3 separate regions of the Homo sapiens genome follow, and all the other regions are linked to region 2. The links come from fine-mapping of genetic effects on gene expression. A gene starts in region 2. Each other region holds a variant in brackets. All regions are shown on one strand. Distances are from middle to middle. Region 1 holds the start of LOC124901848 (small nucleolar RNA U13). Region 2 holds the start of PON1 (paraoxonase 1). Region 3 has its middle 39 kb from the start of DYNC1I1.

What was found. PIP is the estimated chance that this variant, and not a neighbour inherited with it, causes the effect.
Region 1: its variant is fine-mapped to the expression of PON1 in testis (GTEx, PIP above 0.99).
Region 3: its variant is fine-mapped to the expression of PON1 in anterior cingulate cortex (GTEx, PIP 0.95).

What each region holds. Positions count from the first base shown.
Region 1 is chr7:95,273,778-95,281,970 of GRCh38, forward strand. PPP1R9A (protein phosphatase 1 regulatory subunit 9A) reads left to right here. Exons shown (of 20, transcript NM_001166160.2): 15 at 122-209; 16 at 308-391. It overlaps LOC124901848 (small nucleolar RNA U13), which reads left to right and starts at 2,809; the gene lies at 2,809-2,907. The variant A/G (reference allele first, on the strand shown) is at 3,709.
Region 2 is chr7:95,319,577-95,327,719 of GRCh38, forward strand. It overlaps PON1 (paraoxonase 1), which reads right to left and starts at 4,956. Exons shown (of 9, transcript NM_000446.7): 1 at 4,826-4,956. The coding sequence starts at 4,899. RefSeq lists a silencer at 4,900-5,079.
Region 3 is chr7:95,729,595-95,737,787 of GRCh38, forward strand. No RefSeq gene overlaps it. Among named protein-coding and RNA genes, the nearest start is that of DYNC1I1, 39 kb to the right of the region's middle. The variant TTGTC/T (reference allele first, on the strand shown) is at 4,390.

The DNA.
Region 1 (8,193 bases), 46 kb before region 2:
ATTATTTATTTTACAATTAGGAATTTAGGCAAAGCCCTTAGATTCAGAGATGCATTGACTTTTGAATTGTGACTTTAAAAATAATAATAATTGATCTTTTTCACAAATGTGTATATCCTAGATGATGCCAAAGATCCCAAATCACTAAGGGCATCCAGTTCATTGGCGGTGCAAGGAGGAAAAATTAAGCGGAAGTTTGTGGATCTGGGGTAAGCACTTCACGATGTAAAAAGAAAGCCCTCTGTAAAAGGAGGATTGAAAGAGAAAATTTCAGCTTCCCCTTTCTGACTGCTTACTATCATTACAGGGCGCCTTTGCGAAGGAATTCCAGCAAGGGAAAGAAGTGGAAAGAAAAAGAAAAAGAAGCCAGTAGGTTTTCTGCAGGTAGCAGGTACGGTTGTGTGATTAAGAACACGTGTATTTCTATACCTAAACTTTCTGGCCCCCTCTTCTATTGTTAACCAAAATCAGTGGTCAGTATCTTTGAGCTAAAGTGATATGCCAAGAATTGAGATGGAAGAAAAATTGCACAATTAGTTTATATTGGTCTTACTCCAATTATAGCCTCCATCTAGCCTTGGGCATATCCATTGGTTCTTAATTGCAGAATTATGGCCACATGAACCATTTCAATAAGTGTTTATCTAAATTCAGCACAAATATATCTATGTGATACTTCAGAAATATCAAATATATTTATGTGATACTTCAGATTTTTTGCCTGGCTACCCACAATGCTAGTGCATTGTATTAAGTCTAAAAGGATAATCATTTTGCATTTAAGTACCTTGTTGACATTCAAGATTGTCTTGTCCACATGTATGTAGGAGTGACCACCATCTTTTGCTGCACTTGGCTATTTAATTGATTTTGTGGGCACTGTCAACTATGCTTAGTCTTCAGTAAAGACCTTCCCATAAAGAGCGAGCTTTGAACAGCATGTTATCAAATTTTCCCAGTTGTTTTCTGAGATTATATAATTTTAAGCTGAGATTTGTATAGGGAGTCAGTAAAGCATCAAGCTCTGAAGCCCAGCTGCCTGGATTTGAATCATGGCTCTCCTACTTATAACTTTTAAATCTTGGGCAAGTGAGTTACCCTCTGTGCCTTCATTTCCTCATGTAAAATGAGAGTAATAACAGTACCTTTTACATAAGGTCAGTGTAAGGATTCAATGAGTTTTCATGTAAAACATTTAAAATGATACTTGGCATGTAGGAGGTATTCAAAGAATAATAAAGATAACAATTTGCTGCTATTGCCATTACTGTTACCTTATTATTATTTGCAAGTTACAAAGTAGTTTTATATTTATCATTTCATTTGATCCTTATAGGATTGAGAGGATGGCAAGGCTTGGTGGCCCACACCTGTAATCCCAGCACTTTGGGAGGCCAAGGCGGGTGGATCACCTGAGGTCAGGAGTTTGAGACCAGCCCGGCCAACATGGCGAAACCCCGTCTCTACCAAAAATACAAAAATTAGCCAGGCGTGGTGGCGCACACCTGTAATCCCAGCTACTCGGGAGGCTGAGGCAGGAGAATTGCTTGAACCCGGGAGGCGGAGGTTTGAGTGAGCCAAGATCGCACCACTGCACTCCTGGGCGATAGAGCGAGACTCCGTCTCAAAAAAAAAAAAAAAAAAAGATTGGGAGAGTAGATAATAATACCATACTTTATTGATGAAGAACTTTACCTTCATAGAATTTAATTGATTTGCCCAGGGTTATGCAGCAGGCAGTTAATGTCAACCTGGGGCTTGCTCCTCCTGTGTAGATGTTTTTCCAACATACTATGCCACCTTCAGTTACTTATGCATCTAATGATGCTTAAATTTCTTTATAAAATTTGGAAATAATCTCAATATCATAGACTAAGGAAGAAACACACTAAAAATAAAATACTATAAAATCATGCAAGGACCACTTCTCCACTTCATGGGTTGTCCACTGCTGTTTACTTTTCTTTTTTCTCTTTTCTGACATATACCTTGGTGAGAAATTGTACCTTCTTCTTGGAATTAAAGGAGCATTAAAGGAGCATAATGGGCGGGAGATGAGGAGAGAGAATTCCCAAATTAATTATCTTTGTTAGTGTGGCTTTCCTTTATACTGTACATTGGAAAAGGGTAGAATGCTCTCAGAATGAGGACAACAATCTCAGGAAAATAAAGGTAAATCTGAGGCTATATGCATCTCGAAAGTAGTTTAACTTTGTGTGGTTCGGGAGTGAGAATGATCCACTTTGTGTGTTAAAATTAAGAATAGAAAAATAAAATCAAACATACTCATGGAAAAAAACAAATAATGAAACCGTTTAGGGGAGAAAGAGATGCATAAATACATGATGGGAGAGAAACTCAGATACTGAAAATGACACTGTCCTTCCTTTGGTCTCTGGGCTTTGAAGACAGTCACTCCCTCTCATCTTTGAGGCACCACCTGAGAGGGATGTGAGCACCTGCAGCCAGAAAGGGGGAGGGTGTTTGATGGAATTTTGCCATAGTAGCCAGAGATGATTCACCTCCTTGTATAAATCACAAATGAAAGTCAAGCCAATCTTGATTGTGTTGGTGAGTGCCTGCCCACCTCACTATAGGCAAAACCACAGCTTGTCAAGGGCAGGTGGCCATCAGCACACTGCTTCACCACAGTCGATGCCTGCTTTGAACCCACAGCTAGACTTCTAGATTGGCTGCCTCGCCACCACTGTATTTTTAAAACTCTGGAGTCCCCCTGATTCAGCAGTCAGAAATTATTGTACACATACCCACACTACAAACTAGTTTCTAATTAGAATCATGATTTTGATCTTTTGTAGTTCCTAAGTGTGATGATTGGGTGTTCACAGGCATGTGTGAGATGGCCTCCCTCAAACCTTGTTATGACATTGGCATACCCAAAAAAAATAAAATCATAGTTTTATAATTATTAGTAATTATAGTAGAATTTTGGCAGGATGGAAAGGAATTCATATAATTGGAATAGAAGAACAAGGAAAGAAGAAGGACACTTTTCTCTTGCAAGAAAAAAAATTTTGAGCTGCTATAGTAATTGGTTAACACTAATAAAATCTGTGGACAGCTATATTCTTCTGTATAGATTGATAATGGGTACAGAACCTTATAAAACCTATCCCAGGAAGAACAGAATTGCTGCCCAGTAGGAGCTTAATGCAATTGAGTTGGATTCTCAGGGTCCTGAAAGTCTGTGGGCTGTAAGCACCATCAGCTGCAGGGTCGCACTATGATTGTAGTGGGCAACTGGGAATACACTCACCAACCCTGGGAGACTTCCTCAGAAAAAGGAGGGAAGGATCCTTGGACTGAGTAATGTTATCTTTTTGAAGCATTTCATCCAATTCTTATTAGGCTAAGATTCTGATAAGATCATTGGTCAGCTATAACCTATGGCTGTTAGATTTTAAAGAGGCAAGACTTTCACTATTTGGTCTTGGTTTTAGTTTTTTCCTCTCTATAAAGAGTTTACCTTGTTGTGTTTCTGTGGATACATAATGACTCAGATACATGCGCGACATGAGACAACTAGAGAAAATGGATGAGGCTAATAATAATAAACAAATAAACCCAACAAAGAAATATGACTTGGTTCCATCCCTTTTCAAATATGTGCTCAGTGGCATTGTCTTTTTGTTTGTTTGTTTGTTTGTTTGAGACAGTGTCTCACTCTGTTGCCCAGGCTGGAGGACT[A/G]TGGCACAATCACAGCTCATTGCAGCCTTGACCTCCTGGGCTCAAGTGATCCTCTCAGCTCAGCCTTCTGAGTACCTGGGACTACAGGTGTGTGCCACCATGTCCAGCTTAAAAAAAAAATTGTAGAGGTGGGGTCTTGCTATGTTGCCCAGGCTGTTGTTGAACTCCTGGGCTCAAGCAGTTCTCCCACCTCAGCTTCCCAAAGTGCTGGGATTATAGGCACAAGCCACTACACCCAGCCAACATTCTGATTTTAAACAGGCAGCATAGCAGATAACAAAAGCAGGAAACATTTAGTTGTCAGAGCTTGTTCACCCCTTAAAATGTATACCAAAGGGTAAAATAAAATCCTATTCTGTATTCTGGAGTAAGTAGCCACTGATGTCAGTGGAGCATCTACTTTGGAGCTCTGTAGATAAGTTTCCAGTGTAGTCACGGAATGGAAAACTCTGTGAGATGTGTGTATCTCAGATGGGGAGATGTGTGTATCTCAGATGGGGCTAGGTGATAGTATGTTGAGAAAATGATAAGGAAAGGAGATGGCAGTCTTCTATGGAAATGAATTTGCATTCAAGTAGAAAGTGTGAACAACAGAAACAACACTGAGCTGGAATCCAAGGTAGTAGTCCTTACTTTTCCATTAGGCAAGTCTCTGAATTCCTGGGACCTTGGTTTCCTACCAAAAAATAAGTGGATTGGGCTGACACTGCATGGCTCTGACTTCCCATTCACCTCTGCGTACACTGTCCAGTATGGTTGCCTCTAGTCAGATAAGGCTAGTCTATATTGGGATATGTGTAGGAGAATAATGAATGCTGGACTCAAAGACTTAGTATGAACAAAAAGAACATAAAATATCTTCATAATATTATAATATTGATTACATGTCAAAATAATATTTTGGGTTTGGAGGGTAAATAAAATGTATTATTGTTAAAATTATTTTACCTCTTTTTTTCCCATGGTGCTACTAGAAAATTTTAGTTTACAATGTGGTTCATTTATATTTCTTTTTGGATAGTGTTGATCTGTAGGATTCCATGAAAAACAAATCTTCCTTTAATTTCTACCCCATTATTCAGTTGGTCTATTCATTTATTGTTTATTTTCTTATTTATATTCTACTCCTCGTTATTCCAAAATAATTTGTTTACATACAAAAGTACATATGCTACAACAATATAATTTATTAAAAAGTAAATTGAATAGGGAAAAGTTAGATTAAAAAGTAAGTAAAATTGTTACTTAAAATACAACATCTTCAATAACATCTTCATAGTAAGTATAAGAGTGACCTTCCAGTGAAAGCCAAAAACACAATGTCAATATGGTTAAAAGCCTGGGTTGAAATCCCAACTCTGCCACTTACTTCTTGGACAGGTTTCTTAACCTTTCTGTACCTCAGTTTTCTCATCTGTAAAATGGAGACATAGACACACACACACACACCCGCCCCTCACATACTTCTTCATGTTATTAGGAGGATTAAGATGGTCACATTGAAGTACATTTCAAATCCTTAAATAAAAATGTCTATTGTTATCATTGTTTATTAAAGCAGGTTTGATGGGAAGGATACAAAATGACATTCTTCTTGCGTATTTTGCTGGCAGTCTTGTTCATCCAAGGATGACTTTTGTTATATCTTGAAGAATGAATGGGCTATATGGATTATACTTCAGGCTGTACTTCATAGGCTATTTCTCTCAAAGAGGCTTTAGATAAATCATGGCATGACAGTGAGTTTGAAATTATATCCTATGACAAGTACCTGGAGGGTCCACTCTGCCCCTGTTGCTGAGTAAGAGCAAAACCCCTGCTTAAGAATCATCTGAGCTGGCTGGAAACACACCTTTTAGAAGAATTGATGGAGATGAGCACATGTGTGTGAGTAGAAAAACACCCCATCTCTGCCTAAGCCTGGCCCAGTGAATGTAGTCATTTTCATGGAGACCTTTGAATAATGTCAGCTTAGCCCTAGTAGATCGGACTTATTCCCCATAACTGTCTAGCCCATTTTTAGCTGCATTTATCAATTTAATATTCAGTTTTCTTTTTAAGTACAGTATTTCAAATGCCTGAAGCCTGACAAACTTACATTCTTAACAGGCAAACACTTTTCCATACTTAAAAAAGCTCTTGAAAATCTAATAAGTTACTGTTTAACTGTAGTGACTCTAAACGTCCCAATATAGTTATCAAAGTGCTTAATATATTGTGTGTTTGTTAAAAACTCAAATTTAAAATGAGTTTAGATCATTAAAATGAGTTTAACATTTTAAGGTAGAATCAGTGGACACATTTCTCTTTCAGATTTCTATTCATACAAATTTTCTTAAACACCTAAGCAATATATCTGTTATTCTTAAACTTAGCATTTAGATTTTGATAGTATGGATTTTATTTACGTGATCCTCTTCTATTTCATTTTAAACCCCTCCAGTATGGGGAAGACTCATTAAGGGAATAGTTTCACCATCTCGAATGATTCAGAGTTGAACACTACAGTGACCATCTCAGATGAACTATTATTGATTAGATCAGAACTCAGGATCTGGGAGCAGGATATGTCTGAGTAGGGGGCGGGGGTTGGCCCTGAGCTTTAGATGGACATGTTTCTCACAGCTGTTATCCATTAGGGTCTCTAGATCCCATTTAGATGAGGCTAGCTTTACAACCTCAAACTCCTTGGTGGATGTTAGAACCTTATAGAATTACTTCATTCGATTTAGGTAAATACAAGTCTGCAATCTTCCTCTGGTTGCAACTAATTTTCTTCAATTAACTTCTTTTACTCCTGGGCTTAAATTCTGTATTTCTTTTATACTTCATCTGTTCTGGCAGTTTCTGAACTCTTAATGATATTTTGATGACATCCAGTTAGATGCTGAATACTTCACACACCTGTATTCAAAGTTAGAATGACAACAACAAAGATCACCTTGGAATGTTTAGCTGGCAATTTAATTTTGGGATGCCAGCCCCAGGATACACTGGATTCAAGATATATGTAAATGAGTTCATTACTTATAAGAGATATTACATAAACCATTTAAATGCCAGGAAACAGCTACCTCTGAAATGGTATCTTTGGATTATGAGGACGAATTTGAAGCCATTCTTTCTCCCAGTTCCTAGGAGTGACTTATGATTCTCTTTTTTCCAAAAATGATAGCAAGCCAGTAAATTATAGCTAAAAAAGAAGGTGAAGGGAATATAGACTATCTACCTATTTTGATCCACTGGAAAAATTATTTTCAGATTCATCAAGAGTTCATTTCTACCAATCTCGATTTTGGGGAGAAAGGAAGGTGAAAAGGAAAGAAAAGGAAGGAACGAGGAGGAGAAGAAGAAAGGGAGGGAGGAAGCAAATAAGAAAGGAAAGAAGGATTTTATGTTATTCCTAATGGATTTCTCCACAAAGTGAAATAGACTATAAGAGTGGTCAACATGGAATAACTGCTGCCAAACCCTTTCTGCTTCTATTGTGGGCCCAAGAGTTCAATTTATTCAGAAGGAAATTGACATTTATTTTAGAAAGCATGTCTGCTAAGCTGATAGGTCTGTAATTTTAAAGCAAAAATTTCGTTTTTTAAATGAATGTTCTCTAGGTCCGAGAAATGAAAGCATACCACTCACTGTTCAGTTCTTTAAGGATACTAGCAAGTACCCAGGGGTTACATCAGTTCATGGGGTTTTAAAATCACAGATACTCACAGAGGAATGAGAGATACAGGATACAACTTCAGCAGGGGCACAGCCAAGCCTCATGGGAAACTGAAAAATATTCTTCAAAATATCCCTGAATCTGGTGATTTGCCACTGTAGAGACGTAGGTGTCTTCTCGGAAGTGGCCTCTCATTGCCTTCTGCCTGGCTCTTCCTCCTTCCTGTCTATTACTTGGTGTGCAAAGCTAGGGAAAGGAAGCCTCTGGGTATCACCAGAGGCCCAGCTTCTGTGATCTCCTTCACCGCACATGTAAGAACCACATGGCCTCAAGACCCTCCTCAGTGCTGGATGCACAGGTCCATGTGGAATTATTAGTCTTGAATATTTTTCTGACAGTGAAAATGTTGTGAGAGAGTTTAATTAGATGTGACCTTCAGATTTTTTTCTTTTCAAATGTTGCTTGGACAGGATTTGGACTACCAAAAGTCCTTTTCAACTAAAGCAATGGAATGACCACAAGTAGAAAACAATTCTTATTTTGTCCCTATTTGCTTTTAAAGGTAATAGTGATTGTTCTAAAAGCATTGTTACAAAGGCTGTTCACTGGGAGTAGGACAAGATTGTCATGCTGTCATTAATCATGGCCTATTTATAAACTTTAAAACAATATCCATATATTTAAGCACTACTATATTTTATTGAAAATTGTGGATGAACTCATTTAAAAATTCCCTTGATTCAGAAATCTATAACCAGAGGAGATAATGATCATCCGGTCCAGTTTTTCCTCAGAGATACCCAATTATAAGAGTATGG
Region 2 (8,143 bases):
AGGCTTGGACTGTGAGGAGACTGTGGTTTCCTGATTGATAGATGTGAACTTAGAAAGCAGGCTTCAAAGGAAAGTTGGAATCTGTCCCATAACCTAAGAAAGGGAAAGGTATTTTCAAAATGAAAATCTGACATTATAATTGCAAATATTGACAATAAGGAAATAAAAGGGGAAGTGATAAAGCAGTGGCTTACAAACTTTTCAGACAGAGACTCACAGTAGGAAAAGTATTTTATATGGTGCGAACACCCAGCACATGCACACACATACACATACACATCTGAATCAAGCTTCACAAAACAATACTCATCCTAATCTGTGTCATACATTCATAACTTTTCTGTTCAATTCTGTTTTATTTATTTTTAAATGTTGGTAATTATTTACTAAATTGACTTTGTTACCCACCATTTGAAAAAACTCTGGTCTAGGGAAAGTGTAGTGAATATTTGTAGCATGCCCTCAAGGAACCAAAGGGCAGGTACAAGATGTTAAGGGTGATGGTCATAACCGAGGACAACACAAAGACTGGCATGGAAGGAGAGATTCAAGGACATAAAATCACTGAATGGGCCAAGACTTGTGAAAAACACCAAGGATAGTCAAATTCACTTTTCTTAGACTCAAAACCAATGGGAAGAATACTCATGCTGCCTGACTCACAAGGGTCACTAAACATATGGGTTCACAAAAGATGGAGAAAGGCAGAACTGGTCAGCTCCTATTCTAATTCAGGCTTCTCTCTCATAGAAGATGATCTCTAGCCTGGAAAACATAGAATAATCACAGTTAAAGGGAGCCCAGGGTGGGCAAGGGGGCATTAAGTCAGCACTTGTTGATTTGGGTTCCAATTTGTGGCCCAAACATGTCATATCTCAACAGGATAATCATTACTACTATAGTTCAGGTACCGTATATGCCCGCGTTTAATCCTCAAACACCTCCGTGAGGTGTTATTTTCCCTAAGTTATAGTTGACCAAGATTAAGTGGCTTTCTAAGGCCACAGAGTTATAAAGTGGCTGAGCAGGGATTGGAATTCAAGTATGAACACAAAGCTCACATTTAGCTCTCTGACCAGGCAAAATCTACAGAGAACACTGCTTAAAAGCTGGAAGATGCACCTGAAAATTGACCCACCTGTGTTATTATCATCCAACTCATATTTTTTCTACCTCATTTTCAATTTATTAGGAAATATCTTGTCAAAGGCTTAAGTCCAAATGTTCTGGGCCTAAGAGATAAGGGTCAATGTCTGAGATATATCTCTGATTCACTAGACTCTGAACTCTGCGCAGAAACCATACAGCCTTTGCTGTGAACTTGTCTGAGTCTGCTTTGTGTCACTCTAAAGGAACATCTGAGGCTAAGCAACTGATAAAGAAAAAAGGTTTATTTGGCTTATGATTCTGGATGGTTAGAAAGTTCAGGATTGGGTATCTGCATCTGGTGAGGGGCTCTGGCTGCTTCCACTCATTGCAGAAGATGAAGAGAAGCCAGTACTCACAGAGATCATGGGATGAGAGAGAATGTAAGAGAGGGGAGAGGTACCAGGCTCTTTTCAATCAACCAGCTCTCTCGAAATGAATAGAGTGAGAATTCACTCACTCCCAAGGAGGTCATTAATCTATTCATGAGGGATCCATCTTCATGACCCAAACACCTCCCATTGGGCCCCACCTCCAACATTAGAGATCAAATACGAGGTTTGGAGAGGACGAACATCCAAACCAAGGCAGAAGTATTCGGTGAAAATACATGCTGGCTGCTCGCAGAAAAAAGCAGAGATCTTTGCCTAGGCATTAAGAAATCCGTATCGATTCTCAAACTCTTCTTGGGGCCAAATTCACTCTAATCAGTCTATTTTCTGCTACTACACACGCCTCATTCATTCAAATTGCTTTTCATGGCCTACTATGTGCCAAGCTCCAATAAGGGCTCTCACACATACTTCCTCATTTAATCTTTTTAGCCACCTTTGAGAAAAAGATGAATATTTACCCTGTTTTGTAGGTAAGGAAATGGAGGCACTGAGAGGCTGAGTAAATTGCATGTGGTTGCTTATTTAAGAGGGTAGAGTTGGGATTTGAAATCAAGTGTCATGATACTAAGGACTCTTCCCTGTATTTCTTTCATACCTCTTTTTATTTGCTCACACTTTTCCCTTCACCTAGAATGCTCTTTAGCCCATTACCCACTGGAAAGACCCCTACTCATGATGCTTTGTAGCTTCTCCAGTCTTCTGCATTGGGATTAATAACTCCTTAGTTTACCCTCAGGAACCTTCACATATACATCTGTCAACTTTCTTACCATAGTTGTCATAGTTGTCAGTTTCACAGCTGTCAGTTTTTGTTCTTTTGCTCCCAGTAGACTTTAAAATTGGTGAGTGAATACTGCAACCTATTCATTCCTATAACCTCCAGCAGAAACACAACGTTTGCAAAGAGAAGGTACTCTGCAGATGTCCACTGAAGTGTTTTGTGGAGATACTAGGCAAGTACATCAGACTGAGAAGATGGTGTTGGTTGCATTCATAGGGGAGACTGGAGGGTTGGAGGATTATTTGTCCTTATCTCAGACTTTCAATGAAGTATGATTATAATACATATTCAAGTATCACTCTATATTTTTGAGATCACATATGACAGCTATAAAAGCTAACGTTTACAGGACATCTGCTATATGCCTGATTTTTATATATATATATATACTTAGTTTTATTTATATGTTTTATATAAATATAAATATATGTATGTGTGTGTGTGTGTGTGTGTATATATATATATATATGCTGTAATATGTATTATTATCCCCTAATTTTCGGGTGGAGAAACTGGCTGGAACTTTTCTGGAATAAAGTGGTAAAATAACTTGAAAGTTGCAGAAATGATATCTAACCCAGGTCATCAGGAATCCACAACTACTCTCTTCCCACAACTGTGTGTTGCCTACAGTAAGCATGGAATGGCAGAAATGCATCGAGAGGCCCAACGTTAGCTTTGTGGTTTCCTTCTGAGAAGGGAAACTCAGTGGACTCACGTATTGCAATTAGCAATGTAGGGACAAGGAAGTTGCCATACAGATGCTGCAACATTCCATAGCCCAAGTTGGGGTAGGGGAGGGGAGCTGTTTCTACCATCATCCAAGGCATTCCCTGGACTTGTGCGGCACATACAGCCGACTACAAAGGTGGGAGACTCGTGGGTGGGAGACTCGTGGTCTAGGGGAACTCTCTCAGTTCTTTTCTCTGTACTGCTCCCACCTGGGAAACTCAGAAATCTCTTGAGGCATCCCTTGTGTGCTTCCTTAAGTTCCCTCCAGCCCAGGCATATATAGCTTCCTGTGAGCCGCACACACATACACTCCAAGTCTGAAGAAAAAAGGATGCATCTATCCTGGGGATTTGGCTTGCTCCTGATGCAGGCCTCATGATATCATCTCTTGCCTTCTCTCCCTGGGGCAGATTCATGATCTCTAATCCCCCAGGGAGTTTGTTCCATGACGCTGGTTCTGATTCAATAGTGTGGGGTAGGGCTTGAGATTCTGCCTGTACAGGGAGCCCCTAGGTGATGCTCAGGCATCTGGTCCCCAGACCCAGTTGAGTAGCTAGGTTTTAGGGGTTTCCAACAGTGGGTAAAATTTCCCTTCCTTCCTCTGTCTGGGTCACTCCAGGAGGCTCAGCAACCCATCCTTTATCTATATATTTTTATCTATACCTATAATCTCCTTTGGCAGCCACCAGCACTGTGATTAATAAAAACTCACAAACTGTAATTTTTACATGATTTAAAAGCCAAGAATACCAACTGCTTCTTACTTTTTTTCTGCACTCTGTAACTTAAAAAAATTAGAAAAACATCCACAATAAATAGTAAAAACCCATTCTGAATGTAAGCTTCTAATTAGTCCATAAGCTCATATAATTTTTTTATATTTAATTTTTATTAGGTTTTACTTTAAAGTAAATAAGGCATTGTTGACTAAGCCTTAGAGACTAGGATGATCTGTAGACTTTGAACTCCTGTTAAAAGTTATGAAACTTTTGATACATTCTTAAAATATCCCCACCCCCCTTGTATAGCACTTAACCCTTTATTAAATACTTTAAAGGGAAGCAGGGAACTAACATTTATTGAATAGCTACTCTGTCGCAGGCAGTGTGTATTACTATTTCCAGTTTACTGAAGCAGCTAAGGTTAGAGATGTAAAGTGATTTGCCCAAATCGCATACTCATGGGGCAGAGCTAAACCCCAGGACATCAGATGCTGGCTCCAGGGTTCCCTCTTCCCCGCCTGCCCCCACTGAAGCGAACCATCACAGCACACGTTAGCTCCACCTGCTCGGGTCCACACGCAGTTTTGCTGTGGCCCTCAGTAGCCTCAATTTGAGAATCTTCAAGCCTGGAAGGTTTGCCATGGCCAGGCAGTCAAGGCGCAGAAGCGACAGGGGCTCCTTTCTCTAATACACAAAATATCAGGAGAACCCCCAGCCAGGTTAGTTTGTTTCTTTCCAGGTTGAGAAGTGAATCTGTAGCCAGGGCACACAAATCTTCATGAAAAATTAATTCGTGTATGCTGACAACCTGGGCACTCACACCCCTGGCAATTGCCTCCTTATCCCATGTCTCAGGCCATGAGCAAGAGTTTGTTTTCAAGTGACACATGACGGCTGGACAAACATTTATGAAACCCCCGCAGAGTGTGCATCTAGCACCTGCTTGTAAATGTTCTGTTAACAGCCTGGACCCAACTTTCTGGGGGCTCGTGGAGCTGGCAGGGAGTGAGGAGGACGAAGGCTGCAGCCCTCACCACAACCCAACTTACTGGTAAGAAGACTGGTGGTTCCTGAAGAGTGCCAGTCCCATCCCCAAGAGGGTGAGCGCAATCAGCTTCGCCATGGTCGGGGATAGACAAAGGGATCGATGGGCGCAGACACCGACGGGCTAGGAGGCTCTGCCTGCCTGCAGCCGCAGCCCTGCTGGGGCAGCGCCGATTGGCCCGCCCCGCCCCTCCCCGCCGGGTCGGCAGCTAGCTGGGCCGACCAGGTGCACAGAAGGCGTGGCTTGCGGTCAGCCCCCACCGCAGGAGCTCAGCACTTTCAGCCAAAAGTCCCATTTTGCTCCTTCCAACTGTAAAGAGAGAAGACAGAGAATAGGTGCCTAGTCCAGTCGGGGAGGGGAAATCAAACAAGCTGAAGTAAATTGCCATGGGAAAGGACAGTCAAGCTTTGGTGAGCACTCACTTTGTGCCATCCCGGTCCTTGCGTCTCAGAGAGATTCAGTAGCTTGATCATGGTGACAGCCAAAAAGGTGCGGAAGGGAGGGCTGTAGTAGGAACCCCTAAGATCTAACTGTTCTCACCAGGCTACTACTCTGTGTCACCTTCCAACATCTGGATTTCAAGCATTTTTCTCTCAACACCACTCTGACTTTAGAGTTCACTCAAGTACATCCCCCACACAGCTCATTCATTTCCTCATGCAGCTGGCATTTATTGAGTACCTACTATGTGCCAGGCGCTGTTCTAGATGCTACAGAACAGGACAAAACGTCTTCCTCAAGCTTACGTTCATTCCAATGGGGGGAGTCAATTGAGAAATCAGCAAAACATGTCACTGTGGCATATATAATGCTCTAGGTGATGCATGTGTGTGTTATGGATATGCACATATGTTATGGAGAAAACACATAAAGCAAGAAAGGGGATAAGGAATACCCTCTGCTGAAGAATAGCAGTCAGAGAAGTTCTCACTGATAATGGGGCATTTGAGTAAAGACCCAAAGGAGGTGCCTCTGTACAACCATGTCTCTCTTCTCTGCTGTCTGCTGTTACTGTGAATGATTTGCTCCATGTCTCTTTCCTTCTCAAGGCTTTTGGTCCCAGTTATACCTTCTCTCTTCTGCAATATCTGTCCTTTCATCTCTTGTGGAATATTGCCAGCCAATACCAACATGCTTTACTTATCACCTTTAGCTTTCTGGGGGGAAGCTTCTTTGGCCTCACATTGTAACTACTGCCCTCTCTCTCTGCTCCTTCTGAACACTTGCTCTTAAGCCTTGAGCTACTATGTAAAAAACCTGACCACTCCACTGGAGCATTCACATGAAAGGCCATGAACATATGGAGAGGGAAAGTGGTCAGCTGAAGCCAACCTCTTAACCATCGGCACCAAGGAAGCAGAAATGAATGAAGTGGGCTATTAGACAAGCCCAGCCACCACAGCCTGGCCACCAACTGAATACCACTGGCTAAGCCACCCTGGTTAACACCAGGTGGAGCAGAAGAATCTACCTAAGAAGTAGAACCAATGAATCCAAAAGAGAAGAGTATTCGAAAAGAGGGGGAATGATGATCTGTGTCCAATGTGGCTATGAGTTGAGTATGCTTATGGCAGAGAAGTAACTACTGAATTAGATAACATGGATACAATAGGTGGTTTAATAAGAACAAATTCTACACGAGTCAAAAGAACACAAACCATATTAGAATGGGTTAAGGTGAGAATGGAAGATTGGAGATATTTCACAAGGTTAGCTGCTAAACCAAACAATCATTTTCTTATGCTCATAAACAGTGCATAAGGAATTTGGGCAGGGCCCAGCAGGCTACCTGGTTGACATGCCCACTGGGGTGTTTAACAGTCTTTTCAAAATGTGTCCAAAGGAAAACTCTTAATCCCCCCTGCCCAAACTCACACTTCAATAAATGGCATCACTACCATCCAGTTGCTCAAGTCCAAAATCTACATATCTTCTTTCATCCATCTCTTTTCCTCACACCCTCTTGCACCAAACAGATCAGTCAGTCCTATAGGCTCTATTTTGTATTAGTTATCGTATGCTGCATAACAAATTATACTAAAGTCTCACCATTAAAAACAACAAACATTTATTATCTCATCATTTCTGTGGGTCAGGAATTCAGGCATGGCACAGCTAGATACCTCTGGCTCAAGGTCTCTCATGAGTTAGCAGCTGAGCTGTCAGTGTGAATTGCCATCTTATCTGAAGGCTCAACTGGAGTGGGTGAAGGAGGTGAGATCAGCCTCCAAGATTACTCACACAGCTCTTTAGAGACTTCAGTCCCTTGATACTTCAGTCCCTTGATACGTGGGCCTCTCTACAGAACTACAACAGAACAAGGTAGCTGACTTTCACTAGAATGAGCAATCTGAAAGAGTGAGATAGCATGCCTCCAAAATGGATGCCACAATCTTTTATTAACCTAACTTCTGAAATGACATCCCCTAACTTCTGTCATATTCTGTTTGTTAGATGCAAACTGCTAACTCCAGTTTACATTCAAGGTGAGAAGAATTAAACTTCACCTTTTGAGGCTCCCCTTCATATGCCTTGAGGCATATTGATATGGTTTGGATGTTTGTCCCCTCCAAATCTCATGCTGAAATGTGATCCCCAATGGTGGAGGTGGGACAGGGTAGGAGGTGTTGGGTCATGGTGGCAGATCCCTCTGAATTGTCTTGGTGCCATCCTCATGGTAATGAGTGAGTTCTCTTGCTCTGAGTTCACGTGAGATTTGGTTGTTTAAAAGACTATAGCACCTCCCCCCACCCCCACTCCCTCTCTTGCCATGTGACATGCTAGTGATGCCCATCACCTTCCCCCATGATTTTAAGCTTCCTGAGGTCCTCACCAGAACCTGAGCAGATGTTGACACCATGCTTCCTGTACAGCCTACAGAACCATGAACCAATTAAAACTTTTTTTATATAAATTACCCAGCCTCAGGTGTTTATAGCAGTGCAAAAATGCCTAGCCCACATATCAAAGAATGTATAGATAGCTCTTTGAAACCACTACAACTTTCAAATAATCTTGAATCAACCCAATTTTCCCCATTTCCACTGCCATTACTCTGGTTCAGGCTGCTATCATCTCCAGGCTAGAACAGATTCTCCATTGTTCTCTCCCTAATCACCCTCCCCACAAATCCATTCTTCTTACCAAGGCCCACGTAATCCTTTAAAAATGTAAATCAGATTATATCATTTCCATGCTTAAAATCCTCCCTCTTGTGGCTTCTCATTTTATTTTCTTATTGTGGCCTGAAAGGCCCCACAAGATCTGGGCTGTGCTTATCATCTGACCTAATTTCTTATAATTCACTCAGCATAACGTTGCA
Region 3 (8,193 bases), 410 kb after region 2:
ACTGAACAAAAGTTTAACCAGTAAATTGTACTTTTAATTTAGAATATTGAAAACACAAATTTAGATTGTCAGATTAGAATCAGTGGTGTTATATGTGTTTGTTGTCAGCCACTCATGAATACAGATAATAATGAGAAGAAAGATATCATGCCTGGTAGGATTTTTCCAGTCTCAGACAGTGACTCAGGGTATTTCCAAGGTCCCTCAGCAGAAGAAAGAAATGAAGTGTTTGGAAGTACTGATATCCTCAGAAGGATGTTGGAGAGTAGAGTATATAGACTACTGAAGAAGGCAGGGTTGGAACTGACCTTGTAAGGGTTGGCACTGCTGCAACTTTGTGACATATGAGGAACACATTGTGTCTTAACTGGGGATGAGCCCACAGCCTGGAAATATTTCTGAGGTTAGAGTGTTGAAGTCCTATGGATCCTTTAAGAGAGAGAGAGGTGGGAAGAAACCTGTGAGCAACCATACTGAGAACTCGTGTTGGATATTGGATTTTCTCAGCCCTCATAATATTTCACATAAATTTCAACTTGGAAGGCTTGAAGTGGTATCATAACAGGAGTACCCCCAAGTAAAGGAGACCATAGCATCAGTTAGGTTGATTCAGTCTGACAATGAGATCATAAATTAAAATTCTTAGCTGTCAAGAAGGATATGTGGGTTAAATTTTCAGATTTATATGAAATGCAGTACTCTTTTATACTAGGTTTGTGCAAAAGTGATTGCAGTTTTTGCCATTAAAAGTTAATGCCAGTAACTTTGCCGTTAAAAGTTTGCCATTAAAATTAATGGCAAAAATCGCAATTACTTTTGCACCGACCTAATAGTATAGACAAACATAAAATGCTCACTAGTGTCCTTACCACTGCTAAATTGAGCATAAATAGGCAGCAATGGATAGCAGCTCTAGAAACTATCATCTTTGCATTTATGATTGGTCAGGCCTGAGAAACAGAAATGTAAATGTTTCATTGCATTACCAGTCTCAAGTCTCTTGTCATTTGGGATGAAAAAGACTTACATCCTGAAGGCTGTACTACCTATCGGCAGCCATGAGTTATGTAACCTAAAACTTTCACAGTCATTCCACATGAGACTGGAAGTCTGGCAAAGAGCCCAGTGGAAAGATTCAAGGTGACAGAAAATAGTGGAGGCTTCAAGTAAGGAAAAAATGAGTCTTTTCTAAAGGCCAGAACCTTGCTCCAGAAATGGCAGAAACTAACACTAACTAATGAGGGTTTCCAGAAGGTTCTGTTATACCTCATAAACGGGTTGTGGAAAGAGCTAATACTTTCTCAGCTACATCACCTCTGGGTACTAAGGATATGTATGACGATTGTACCATTGAACTCTGGCTAAACTAACCAGAAAATGAATGTATTACAATGCTATTATGCAGCTCACAGGTTTGACAGGAAAGTTAAAGACCTTAGCTCAGATAATGGGCAGACTCCAGGGAGTATGGGAAGCAGACAGCATATCCACTGTTGTGCCACAGGAATATCTGTTAGAATCCCACTCCAGTGCCTGGTGCCATATTGACTCCGCCACCATGAACTATCTCTAACTTTCTCTGTGTTTTCAGGTTTCTTCTTCCACATTCAAAATCCCAGTTAAGGAGGAGAACATCTGGTGTCCTTTAAATTTTCATAGTGGGATTAAATTTCTGCTTCTCACAAACACTCATGTGCTGTGGCGTTTTGTTTTTATTTATTTATTATTTAAATTTTTAAATTTTTTTAGAGATGAGGGTCTCATTCTGTTGCCTAGGCTGGAGTGCAGTGGTGCAAACACAGCTCACTGCAGCCTTAAACTCCAGGGCTCAAGTGATCCCCTCACCTCAGCCTCCTGAGTAGCTGGCACCATAGGTACGTGCCACCATGCCGAGCTAATTATTTTCTATTTTTTGAGTTTCTCTTTGTTGCCTAGGCTGGTCTCAAACTCCAGGTTTAAGCAATCCTTCCACTTCAGCCTTCCAAAGTGCTGGGATTACAGGCATGAGCCACTGTGCCCGGTCTTGTTTGGTTTTAACAATATAAATGGGATCTGTTTGCTGGGCAACCAAAGATGACTGTCAAATGTCAATCCTGTCCGTGCCACTGGCTGCCCAATATCTGACATGCATTCTTCCTCCTCTAATTGCATGTCACTGAAAAAACTTATAAAATATTGAAGCTATTTATTATTTGTTTTTTAAAAACAGAATTTGTTTAGATATCTGTCAGAGTTTGGAGTTTTCTTTGTGGGGAAGGTTTTATATTAGTGATTTAGTTTCTTTAATATTTAGTTTGCATTATAGAAATTGTAAATATTTAACCATGTAGGTCTGTTTAGATATCTATTTCTCCTGTCCATTTTGTTAAGTCGTATTTAATAAAAGTATGGTCATATCTTCTATATGTTCATATGTATTGGCATAAAATTGTTTCTAATATGTTGATATAGTCTTATTTACTGTTATATTGCCTTGAAAATCTCCAGTGACGCCACCTTTTCCAGCTCTGATACTCTTATATTTGTGCCTTCTCCCTTTTATTGATTAGTCTTATTAGATGTTATCAATTTTCAACAAACCACCTTTTTTGTTGATTTTAGTTGTCAGAGACTCATTGTCTACTTCACTAATTTCTGCCCTTATTTTTCTTATTTCCTTTCTTGCGCATTGAGGTTGATTTTGCAGGTTTTTGTCATAACTTTTTGAGACTTCTGGTTTAGCTATACCAAGTAAAGAGCGTGGAGGTTGTCACTCCCATTCTTTTTTTTTTTTTTTTTTTTTGAGACGGAGTCTCGCTCTGTCGCCCAGGTCGGACTGCGGACTGCAGTGGCGCAATCTCGGCTCACTGCAAGCTCCGCTTCCCGGGTTCACGCCATTCTCCTGCCTCAGCCTCCCGAGTAGCTGGGACTACAGGCGCCCGCCACCGCGCCCGGCTAATTTTTTGTATTTTTAGTAGAGACGGGGTTTCACCTTGTTAGCCAGGATGGTCTCGATCTCCTGACCTCATGATCCACCCGCCTCGGCCTCCCAAAGTGCTGGGATTACAGGCGTGAGCCACCGCGCCCGGCCCCCCATTCTTAACTCAAGAAAAAAATCGGACACACTGGAAATCATTCACTTTTCCTGGACCCATCTAGAGTGAAGACCATGGGTGGCAAACTGCCACCCCAACATCTGGAGAGACAAGTGTATCTGGGGAGTCACAGCTGAGATCTGCTTAGGTGAAGCAGAGGCCGTTAAAGTCAGAAACACTTAAATGATAATTTTGACTCATTGCTAGAGGCTGAGTGTGGACTAGTGTAATAGTGAAAATCTCTTGGGGGCCAAAGTCTTAGGGGGTGTCCTACACTGTCATTGGTTTTACCTCCAGAACTTCATCAGGTTCTCATAGCAAAGATCCAGGAAAGATTCTCTTCGTTGTGAATTATCCTCACATGCTTCTCCATCACAAGATAGTTCTCTGCAGGGGAGGGAATTTGCCAGAGCCTCATCCCATCTAAGAAAAGGGCATTCTTCCTTCAGCCTTCTTGCCTTACCTAAGGGGGCTGGGCTTCAGGGAAATAAACTAGAACATCATAGCCAGAGAAGGAAGTAAGGAGCAGAGGGAAAAAAGAAGCCTTACCACTAGAGAAGTACTTGTGAAAGTCATAGCTTTGAGACATACATCCACTAAAAGACTGAGATTTAATCATAAGATTATAGAAGGCTTCCCCTCCCTACACGTTACCACCCTACCAACAGGGCTGAGGTAGAATAACAGCAGACGGCAATTGTTAGGAGCTACAAGACACAGACTTTCTGAGGAAGAGTACTTTGGGAAGCCCAAAGTGCAAAGGGAATACAAAAACAAGGAAACTAAAGGAACTCAAAGGCTCTGGCACCTATAGTTACAGCAAGCATTAAACATAGCTCAGCTCCTAGCCAGATGAACACAAATCCCAAATCCACACACTGAAGGTCAGTTTACTCCAGATCCTATAACCCAATACAACATGTCTAGCTTTCCAAAGAAAATTATAAGGCATGACAAAAGGCAAGAAAAAATCACAGTGGCAGTGACAGGCATTCATTAGAACCAGACTCAGCTATGACACAGATGTTAGAATTATCAGACTTGGGGTGGGGTGGGAACAAGGAATTAGTCAAAGGACACAAAATTTTAGTTAGATAGGAGGAATAAATTCAAGAGCTTTATTGTACAACATAGTGACTATAGTTAATAATATATTGCATTCTTGAAAAATGCTGAGAGTGGATGTAAAGTGTTCTCACCACAAAAATAATAACTATGTAACATAATGCATATATGTTAATTAGCTAGATTTAGTCATTTCACAATGTATATATAATTTAAAACATCATGTTGTATGTGGTAGATACATTCAACT[TTGTC/T]TGTCAATTTTAAAGCTTTTTTTAAAAGGAATTATCAGGGAATTGAAAATTACAATTAATTTATGTTCAAGAACTTAATATATTCAGGACACTAATTTAAAAAAGTAGACAATATGTAAGAGGCTTAGTTATCACCCATTATACTTACTTCATTAAGAAGGTAAAAGTTTACTTACTTTTCTATGTTTAGTAGTAGTTTAGGTGGTATTGGGACTATCTAATCTTTAACATTTTGTGAAATTTTCTAGAGGAATCATCTGGGGTGGATGCTTTCTTTGTGAGGGCACTTTGAAAATGTCTCTGTTTCTTCTAAGGCATATGGGCTGTTTATATTTTTATTGCTACAAAGGTCACATAAAAATTATATTTTCCTAAAAAGTTATCCACATATATCTGGAAATATATATAGAAAGAGAGTTTTAATTTTCCTTTTGGCAACTTTAAAAGATATAGAAAAGTACAAAGAATAATATGACAAACACATATGTTCTCACCACCATAATTAGCAACTGCTAACAATTTTATATTTTCATTTTACACTTTAAAAATGTACACAGAGCATTGCACAGACCATAAGGGCAGAACTCAATAAATCATCTCAGCGTAAACACTCTTGTATAACCACCACCCAGATCAATAATTACAACATTATAAGTTTTGGATTCAGTGGATTTGGAAGAGGAGGGAGCAGACAGAGAGCACCAAATGGGAGGGAATCGAATCTGGAAGGTCCCAAGTCTAGTGACATGGTGACATTGAAAAAAATTCTGTAAAGAAAGTTTCCCTCTCCACCACAAAAATGGCACCTCAGCTGTACTGGAATGGAGAGTGCTAGACTCTGAGGAGAACCCAGCAGCTCTCCTTGCCCCTGCCTAAAGGCTGACCAGACTGCATCAGTGAGGAAGTTACTTGTGATTTCATCTTATATACACAGGAGAGAAAGTGACAAAGGAAAAATTCTGATGGCAACTATATGATAGAAGCTATATAAAGGCAAGTGTCTGTATATTCTTTCAACTATATTTGAGCATACCCAGATGGTGGGTTAGACACTTTTAGTGTGCCTCAGACATGTGGAAATAGCAAGATAGTGCATAAAGCTCAACATTTGAGCTTTTTATTTTTTGTGGGTACATAGTAGGTGTATATATATTGGGGGTACATGAGATATTTTGATACCGGCATAAAATGCAGAATAATCACATCAGGGTCAATGGGGTATCCATCACCTCAAGCACTTATACTTTTTTGTGCTATAAAGAATCCAGTTATACTCTTTTAGTTATTTTTAAATGTACGATAAATTACTGTTGACTGCAGTCACCCTGTTGTGCTATCAAATACTAGATCTTATTCATTCCAACGATATTCTTTTGCCTATTAACCATCCCCACTTACCCCAACCCCACCTTTCTCAGCCTCTAGTAACCATCATTCTACTCTCTATCTCCATCAATTCAATTGTTTGAATTTTGAGCTTCCACAAATAAATGAGGGCATGTGAAGTTTGCCTTTCTTTGCTTGGCTTATTTAACATAACATAATGTCTTCCATCCATGTTGCAAATAACAAAATCTCATTCCCTTTAATAGCTAAACAGTACTCCATTGTGTATATGTACCACATTTTCTTTTTCCATTACTCTGTTTGGCTTTTTGTTTGTTTTTCAGACAGGATCTCACTCTGTCCCCTAGGCATGTTCATGGCTCACAGGAGCTTCAAACTTCCAGGCTCAAGCAATCCTCCTACATCAGCCTGCTGAGAAGCTAAAACCACAGACTCATGCCACCATGCCTGGCTAATTTTTTTAATTTTTAATTTTATTTTTAGAGATGGGGTCTCACTATGTTGCCCAGGCTAACTCCAAATACCTGGGCTCAAGCAATCTGCTCCCCTTGGCTTCCCAAAGTGCTGGGATTACAGAAGTGAGCCACTGTGCCTGGCCCATTTGTCTGTTGATGGACACTTAGGTTGTCTCCAAATCTTGGCTATTGTGAATAGTGCTGGAATTAACATGGGAGTGCAGATATTTTTTAGATAGACAGATTTCCTTTCTTTTGGGTATATACCTAGGAGTGGGATTGCTGGATTGTATGGCAGCTCTGGGTCTCACCCAAAGCCTACTGTCATCACTGCCTGGCTACCACTTATGTTCACTCAAGGCCCAAGGGCTCTGCAGTCATCAGTGGCAAATCCAACCAAGCTTGTGTTCTTCCCCCTTCAGTGCAGTGAGTTGCTCTAGCCCCACTCAGGTTCAGAGATGCTGGTCTGGGAGCCAGGGCCTGGAGGGGGAAACCTTAAGAATCTAACTGGTGCTCTATTCTACTGTGGCTGAGCTAGCACCCAAGCTGCAAGACAAAGTATTTTTCCCTCTTTCCTCCCTTTTCCTCAAGCAGAGGAGTCTCTCCCCATGGCTACCACCACCCCAGGCTCACAGCAAGTACTGCCTGGCTACTGCTGATGTTCATTCAAGCCCCAAGGGCTCTTCAGTCTGCTTGTGGTGAATGCTGCCAGACCTAGGTCTCTCCCTTCAGGGCAGTGGGCTCTGCTCTGGCCTAGGGCAAGTCCAGAAATGCCATCCAGGAGCCTAGGCCTAGAATTGAGAACCCCAGGAGCCAGAGGATTTGGGGTGCCCTACTCCACTGTGGCTGAATTTGTACCCCAGCTACAAGCAAAGTCCTCTTTACTTTCCCCTCTCCTCTATTCAAGCAGAGGGAAGGAGTCTCTCCCAGAGTTGTGAGCTAAGCTGCCCAGGGTTGGGAAAGGGGTGACAACAGTACTCCCTTGGCCACTCCAGCTGATATCTCACTAGGTTGTGTGCACCCAAATCCTCTGGCTTTGAGCCCAGCCCAACACAGCACCAACCAGGACTTAGCCAGGAATTGGAGTCCTCGTTGCCTAGACTGCCTTTGAAGTTTATTTAGGACCTCAGAGCACTTTAGCCCATGGTGGAAGGGCTTGCTGGAACTCGGGTTCTGACCACTAAAACAGGTGACTTGCCTCTGGGGTAAGGCAGATCTGAATGCTCCCTCGTGGGTGCTGGCTGAATTCTGCCCCATGTTGCTTTCCTCCGTGACAGAGAAATTTGAGTTGCAATGCAAAGTCCCACAGTCACTGGGTTCTCCTTCCCCCAAGGGCACAAATTTTCTCTCCATACTATATAGCTGCTACCAGGTGATTAGGGAGGGGTGGATAGGCATTTCAAGAGTGTCTTTCCTACCCTCTCAGTGCATCTTTCCTTAATATGATGTTAAAACCAGGCACTGTGATTGCTCACCTGGTGTTTTGATTCTTATGAAGGTGCTTTTTTGTGTGCATAGCTGTTCAATTTGGTGTTCTTGTGGGAGGGATGATTGCTGGATGATTTGGTCATCTTGCTCCATCTACTCATTCCAAATCTCTCTGTGAGCTTTAATTCAAGAAGGAATATGGGAATCCACCAGAATCATTAAGGACATCCCAGATCCCAGGGAGGAGTATGTGGGCAGTTAGCCCTGTGGTGGCATCTAGGTGATAAAAGTGAGTGAAGCCTCAGTATGTGAGAGAGGCAGAGAGCCTCCCTCTGTGACTCACCATTCTATTGGAGATCCAAGCAACCCAGGCCTAGGGATAGCACTTTGCTTCTCCCAAGCCCTTGAGGTAATTTGGGGAGAGTCTTGGAGATGCTGTGAGGGAAAGACACCGGGAAAAGCTGCAGGCATTTTCCCAGAACTGGGACCAAGAACATCATGCCAGTTTTAATCTGGGTGCATATAAAGTCAGTCATTCTTTGATGACCCAGAAGTGTGGCTCTGCAGGCA